Homo sapiens: one gene and its partner. The protein of the gene in region 2 purifies or fractionates together with the protein of the main gene of each other region. This does not show direct contact. Each region holds a gene or a part of one and is shown on either strand. Other genes may lie near its edges.

Evidence for each region.
Region 1: the proteins of SETMAR (region 2) and XRCC4 purify together in Homo sapiens (affinity purification with western blotting, with the first as the bait; one study listed by BioGRID). This does not show direct contact.

What each region holds. Positions count from the first base shown.
Region 1 is NC_000005.10:83,199,279-83,203,108, reverse strand, and holds part of XRCC4 (DNA repair protein XRCC4), read right to left. Parts: intron 1-3,830.
Region 2 is NC_000003.12:4,306,301-4,310,130, reverse strand, and holds part of SETMAR (histone-lysine N-methyltransferase SETMAR), read right to left. Parts: intron 1-3,830. UniProt on the Homo sapiens protein: Protein derived from the fusion of a methylase with the transposase of an Hsmar1 transposon that plays a role in DNA double-strand break repair, stalled replication fork restart and DNA integration.

The DNA of each region.
Region 1 (3,830 bases), on a different chromosome or scaffold from region 2:
ACTGCTCCACAACAAGAACACGACTTATCCAGTTATATTCTTATAAGCGAGCACCACACACACACACACACAAATACATATAGAAATGCAATACACATACCCAATGAAAGTATTCTACTTGATATATTCAAGGAGAGATTAATAAAACAGCAAATGTAAAACACTACATATCTTCAAATTTAGATACGTAAGACAAAACATACAAAATTCTCTATTGTTTTTAATTCATCCCATACTGCTCAAATGAGCTAACAAGGGATTGTATTTATTTTAAGCTCCCAAGAGATATATAAAGAAAGCAAAATAGCTGAGGTTGTATATACTTAATATATGCATACACATACATGATGAATACATTCCTATTTTATTGATTCAAATACAAATTATTTTATGTATTCTTTTCAATGTTGTTTCATACTGCTTATTTACATTGTTGTTGTTTTACAGGTATCCTAGTATTTTTATACTGTACATAAACACACACACACATATATACCAGTAGTAATATATATGTGTGTGTACATATATAGACACACACATATATATTTCAGTGAAATTAGAAACACAAATGTCCAAATTAGATAGCTTTTATATACATGCCCTTAAACTTTCAACAATCTACCTATCTAGAGATGCAAAGAATTAGAACGTATCATAGGATAAAAAGGAAAATATGGCAATATATTCTCTGGGACCAATTTCAGCAAATTCTTACAGCACAGTCTTTGCCAAAGATGTGAACTCCACGAAAGCAGACAGCATGTGTGTTTTATTGGCCACTGTATCCTCAGTGCCCAGCATAGTGTTTAGCATTCGACAGATGTTTGGTAGGTTCTTATTAGACAAACGAATAAAGTGAATAAATTAATATGGACATCTTTTTGGTTTATTTATTTTCCCAGTGGTTTATTCGTTTTCCCAGCTTTTCTGCAGAGTTATTACAAGGCCTCAACAGTGCTTTAGTTTTTCTTTTCAATATCCTGTTCTGCAGCTTCCTTGGTCCTTTTTGCCCAGAGGCCAAAGAGCCAGGCATTGATATGGCAGGTTTTTTGTTTTTTTTTTTTTTGAGACAGACTTTCGCTGTTGTTGCCCAGGCTGGAGGGCAGTGGCACGATCTCCACTCACTACAACCTCTGCCTTCTGGTTTCAAGCGATTCGCCTGCCTCAGCCTCCCGAGTAGCTGAGATTACAGGCACCTGCCACCATGCCTGGCTAATTTTTGTACTTTTAGTAGAGACAGGGTTTCACCATGTTGGTCAGACTGGTCTCGAACTCCTGAGCTCGTGATCCATCTGCCTCAGCCTCCCAAAGTTCTGGGATTACAGGCGTGAGCCACCGCACCTGGCCTGACGTGGCAGTCTTGAAGTTCTCTTCCTCCTTGGTGATGACTCTGGCTTTCTCCTTCGTATAGGTATTTCATATGAACATTACCGGTCCTGTCAGTGTGATGGCCAATTTGAGTTCTTCAGTGTAGCTGTCTCTCTTCTCGGAGGCTGAGGTTTCTAGAGAAGGAGGATAAGCTTCCAGCAGTACTCCTACAGCTGTTATACATTGGCCTGCAGGGACTCAGTAGACTTGTCTCACCTCCTTGGATCAATAGAGAAATCAATGGTCCAGGCCATCTTCTTGTGGATGCTGGCCACCCTTAATTCTTCCAAGCTGAAGCCCCTACCAGCTTGTACTTGGTGTGAAACCTCATGTGGGGCATTTTACTAGGGGCCAGTGGGTCCAGATACAAGGCACCGGGCAATGCAGTGGGCTTGCCCAGTCCCATGTCTGTGGCTCTTCCTTGCAGGCTGGGTGAACCATATTGCTATAGGCCACTGCCAGTACTTACAAAAGTGGGGCTTCAGGATTATGCCATTCCTGCTGGGCACCATGGCTGACTATAGCCCTCCAGCAAAGAAGAAGAGCCAAGGAGAATGGCTAATATTGACATCTTATAAGGAAACAGAAAAACAGTGATTCCGAATATTGTATTTTTTCCCTCATTTAATAGCTATTCACCATTGTAAAAGTAATGTTTTTCATCTTCAGCTTTTAAAAAAACTGTGGCAAATAATATCAATCTAACAGTATTCCCTTCATTAAGCAAAGTTCTCTGAGAAAGAAGTACACGAAAGATGTTAGAAAAAAACTGAATATTGAAAAGGAGCTAGCAATATTGATAGTTTATTTTAAGCAAAGACATGTCACTACATTTATATTTCAGATTCAGTGTTACGTAAGCATGATATTCTTATCTTCCTATAATATTTTCAAAAAAACACAACAAAAAACTTTAAAACATACATATTACTGAAATACCTGAGTATATAATAACATACTTCAAACATATGCAAAGTAAAAACCAATATGTGAAAACATATAAACAAATATATTACAATTTCTTATATTAAATTTTAGGAATGGTAACCAATTAGTAATTTATCTGGTTTAAGTCCATATTTAATTTCCATATAAGTCACTTCAATAATTCTTGATTGAATGATGATGTGTACTTAACAACTAACAAGCTAATTCCCAAACCTTTATTAAAATTAACATTTGGTATGACACATTCAAAGTGAAAATAAATATGAAAATGAAATATCATATAATATTCCTAAAGAATATTGTTAATCTTAAGTAACCAGTATCAGATCTATGTTGTCAAAGGAAACATTTCTGTGACAGGAAAACACAGTCAATAGAATGAATGGTATCATGTGAGTTAACCTTGCTTGGTTTCAGCAAAGCTTTAGGATTTTTTTGCAACCAAACTTCTGATCATCAAACTGGACAACACTTCCTAGAAAAGTGGGGGAGCGGGAGCTGACTGGAGAAAAAGTATTAGTGTGAACAGTTGCATGACATGAATTTACTCTTAACTTTTAATTTTTCAAGACTCAGAGAATGCTATCCTTTTATCCAATAATCAGTAACTAAGAGGTATGTCGTATCATTCCCACCTAATTTTTAATGCCAATCCTCTCCTAGAGCATTATGATGTTACTATGCATTCCATTACGTGCTTCCTGTCAAGCTTATGCCTCAAGAAATTGGACAGGAACTGTTAGGTGAGAACATTTAGTGGAGAAGAGACATGGGATTCACTGCTAAGTCTGGTGACACTAACAAAAAGCCCATGTACAACTAGATCAGACCACACTAGTCCAAGGATCAAATCCAGGCAAATCTCAAATTGGGACGAAATCACAAATAACATCAAACAAGAAAGGTCTAATGATACTTCATCCTTTCTACAATAACTAGGAAAACAGAACAATAATGCTAAATTTAATTAGCAACCTAGCACTGAGGTATCTAAAACCTTGGACAAAAAAATAGTAATTTTTTTTAAAAAATTAAAAGGATAAAAAAATACAAAAAAATACTGAATATTCAAAATAAAATGTCTCTGGGTGGGAAAACAATCTAAGAATAACATGTCAAAACAATAACAAACTAGGAGGAAAAACACAACAATTTCATGCAGAAATAACACCAAAAATGAAACAACAGATTAAATGATAGCTCAAAATAAAATAATAGATATATAAATGTGAACATATGGTATTTAGACACAGTGCAGTAATCCTTAAATTAATAATCAGTTCTGGCCAAAATTATATCTGGCCCAGGTCAGGGTTGTATGTCAAAAGAAAGTCTGAATAGAGTTGGGAAGACAAAGAAAGCTAAAAAGAACTGGAAAAGCAAGCAGTGGTAAAGAGATTTAATAAGGCTTTAAGTACGGAAAAAGATGGTGAACAGCTGTTCCTCATCCTTTCTGACAAGAGAACAAGAGGAAATGGCCTTCAACTATACCGTGAAGGATTCAGATTACCCAT
Region 2 (3,830 bases):
TAAGATTAGAATACAGTATTTTTGCTGTATGTTTTCTATGTTTAGATACACAAACACCACTGCGTTACAAGTATCTACAGTATTCAGTGTAGCAACATTCTGTGCAGGTTTGTAGCCTAGGAGTGATAGGGCATTATCATATTGCCTAAGTGTGTAGTAGGCTATACCATCTAGGTTTCTGTAAGTACTGTGCACTCTATGACTTTTGCATAATGACGAAATTGTCTAATGATGCATTTCTCAGACTGTTTCCCCATAGTTAAATAATAACTGTATCTGAAGTATAATTGTATCTGAAAGCTAATGTAAAGTGGGTTACAAACTGGGAGTCAGCTGATATGACCTAAGCCAGACTTCTGCTGAAACAATTAGGGAAGAAGCATTCTCTTTCTACTAGAATTATTCAACTGTAGTGTTTGCCTGGCATTTCCAAGTTCTGCCACGTAGATGAGGCCTACTGAGTGTGTAGCCTACCACAGAAATGGGAAGCAGGGGTGTGAAGGGGGAAGGTGGTGGGAAGAAGTATCTGACAATACTTTTAGAATTACTGGGTCCAGACATGCCTATAGTTACCACTTGGACTTTTCTGATTTGAGGCAATTCCTTCCCTTTTTTGTTGGAGCCAGTTTGTGTTATGTTTCTTGCAAACAAATGAGTCCTGACTGATACACCCTGGGTAGAAGCTGAGAATGGTTTCAGGAAATGGCTAGAAAATGTACTCTGTTAACCAAAAATAAAATTCTAAATCCCCTGATCATCTGAAGGGACCCCTCCTCTCAGCAAGGGCATTCCAAAGCTAACCTGAAAAACTAGTTCAGGTCATGATGGGAAGGGGGCAGGGGTCAGACATGCCTCATTATACCCTCTTCCCTTTTGGAATTACTGATAGAACAGACTCTTTAAGTCTGATAAAAAACATTTACAATCTATTCTCTCTGAAGCCTGCTACCTGGAGGCTTCACCTGCATGATAATAAACCCCTGGTCTCCACAACCCTTTATCTTACCCAAGGCATTCCTAAGTTTTTAGACAATAACAATTCCTTCAAGCAAACTGTTAATCAGAAACTGGAAGCCTCTGCTTCCAACTGTCCTGTCTTTCTGGACTGAACCAATGTACGTTTTACATGTATTTGACTGTTGTCTCATGTCTCCCTAAAATGTATAAAACTAAGCCATATCCCAACCACTTCGGATACATGTTCTCAGGATCTCCTGATGGCTGTGTCATGGTCCATGCTCACTCATATTTGGCTCAGAATAAATCTCTTCAAATATTTTGCAGAGTTTGACTCTTTTCATAGACAAGTCAAAGGCGTAAATGGTCAATGAACAAAGATGTCTTCAATTAGGAGGTTAGACTAGAGCAAAGTGTGCAGACCAGGCAGGAAAACTCTGTGACTATGGTCTTGAACTGTGAGGAAGCAGTGGAGAGCTTCCTAGTGCAGAACATGGAATGCTCTAAAGGAGACACAAACCACAGCCAGGCTCTTATTAGCATTGTGATTCTGGACAAGTGACTGGCTAGGCTTCAGATTAGTAGCTATAAGACAAGGATAATACCCACATTTGGGGTGGCTATCATGAAATTTTAATGAAATAATGCTGTACTCCATGTCAGGCACTTTATAAAAATATTGGCTTCTTTCAATTCTTCTAGATATTACTTTTAGATGTTATATTTAAAACAACATATGTTTCTGGCAAATTACTTTACATTACTAAACATCTTATTTATTTCATAGGTTTCTGTGAAAGAAAACATGACAGAACTGGCTTAAAAAGCTTACTCTAGGGATTAGCATGTACGTGTTCAATAAAAATTTTGCAGGTAGTGCATAGTAGGGTAGTGAAGAAAATAAGTTCTGGAGTTAAACTTTCCAGGTTCAAACATATTCAAACCAAAATTGTGTCTAGGAAGCCATCGGACTGTATACCTTTCCTCCATTACTTCTCCATTTGAGTGGAGAAAAGCTAAGAGCTGATCCAGACTAGACTTCTTTCAGTTATCAAGTATTACCTTACTGTCTGCAATATGCACATACTGGGATTTAGAAACAGTCAGAAAAGTATAAAGGACACGGAGAATGGGATTTTTTTTTTTTAAGACGTTGCTGCCCAGTCTGGAGTGCAATGGCATGATCATAGCTCACTGCAGGCTCCAACTGCTGGGCTCAAGGTCAGCCTCCCAAGTAGGTGGGACTACAGGCATGCACCACCATGTCTGGTTAATTTAAAATAAAATGTTTTTGTAGAGATGGGGTCTCACTTTGTTGCCCTTTGTTAAGGGTGGTCTTAAACTCCTGACTTCAAGTGATTCTCCCGCCTTGGCCTCCAAAAGGGTTGGGATTATGGGAGTGAGCCACCATGCCTGGCTGGGATTTTTTAAATTTCCTGCATTGTTACAATGTAAGTTTTACTTTTTCTTCGTATGTATCAAAGCACAGAATTACTCATGCAAGAGCTAGGAATAAATGCAAAACAATCACGGCAAAATGATATACTGGAAATCAGATCCTTGAAGCACTGGGTGAAGATTTCAAGTTTTTTGACAGAAAACTTAAGAGAAAATACACTCTTGTCTTGGCTATTCCTGTCTGCAACAATTTCTTTCTTCTCTGAACTAGACTTACATTTACTGTTAATAGCATGAACTTCAGGGTCTAAATGACACAGATTGTAGGGCTCTCTAATTGTGTTAAATGTGTAGGTCTTACCTTTCTAACAGATACGTGTCTCAGGGAAAAGCATGGTTATGAGGTTTCGAGTGTGGCATGGTGATGGGGGTGGGGTTCCTATCCATAGGACAAGGCACACAGCAGGTGCTCAAGAAGCATTTTTCGATTGCCAGATTGCAGCTCTTGATACTTGTTAACGAGAAGTTTGACTTTTCTGAATCACATTCCGTACTGAAGACCCAGAAACTGAAGTATGATACTGTAACATTCTAGGCTTAAAACCTGGGCCTCTGAATTATAAAGAAGTGTTGTGAAAATCTTCATTCCTTTTTTGGTTGTGTTGAAACCCCAGCTACAAGAATCTTTGTACTTGGCCTCTAGCCTCATAAGTTTGTTTTTCCTCCAAGCAGCTATTAGAAGACTGTGAGCCAGATAATTCTTGTCAAGGCCTGTTGAGATCTAAAAATAATGTTTGAAGCTGGTTTCAGAGACCTGAAAAATGGTTAGATCCAACTGTTAGCTCAATAAAATCAATTAGTTTATTTTCTACTTGGCTTTCAACACTGATGACATTATGATATGCTTGTTTCCAATATGAACATTTGAATTTCTTTTTGCCTTTTCACACAGTAGCCAAAGGCAAAACAGACACAAAGTTATTTTTATCTTGAAAGTTTTTCATGCCTTAATTCTTATGTGTGCATATGCCTGTGAAGGCAGGGTTTGGAGCAAGCAAGCTGTTTTGACCTTTTATAAGACTGGTTTTGTGTTCCATGAATACATGGAAGAAAACGAGTTGAATGCACTTTTAGGCTTGTCACTTAAATGTTTCAAGCATGTTTGATCTTCTTGGTAAGAAAGACAATAAGCTCTCTTAGGAAGGCATCCTGTCTTATTTTTGTAACTCTAACTTTATTGGGAGCTGTGCATATACAGAGATAGTTAGAACACTGTGGGACTGGGTTTTAATCTCCCAATTTTCATTTATGCCCACCAACTGTAGATGTAACAATCAATCACAAAGCTTCCTCTTGTCACTCCTTTCTCCCCTTTTAAAAATAGACGTATTTATTTTAATATACACTTTGAGAAATAGAAAACCTCATGATTTTATGGACATTAATGATTACAATGATTCTAAGGGAGATACTTA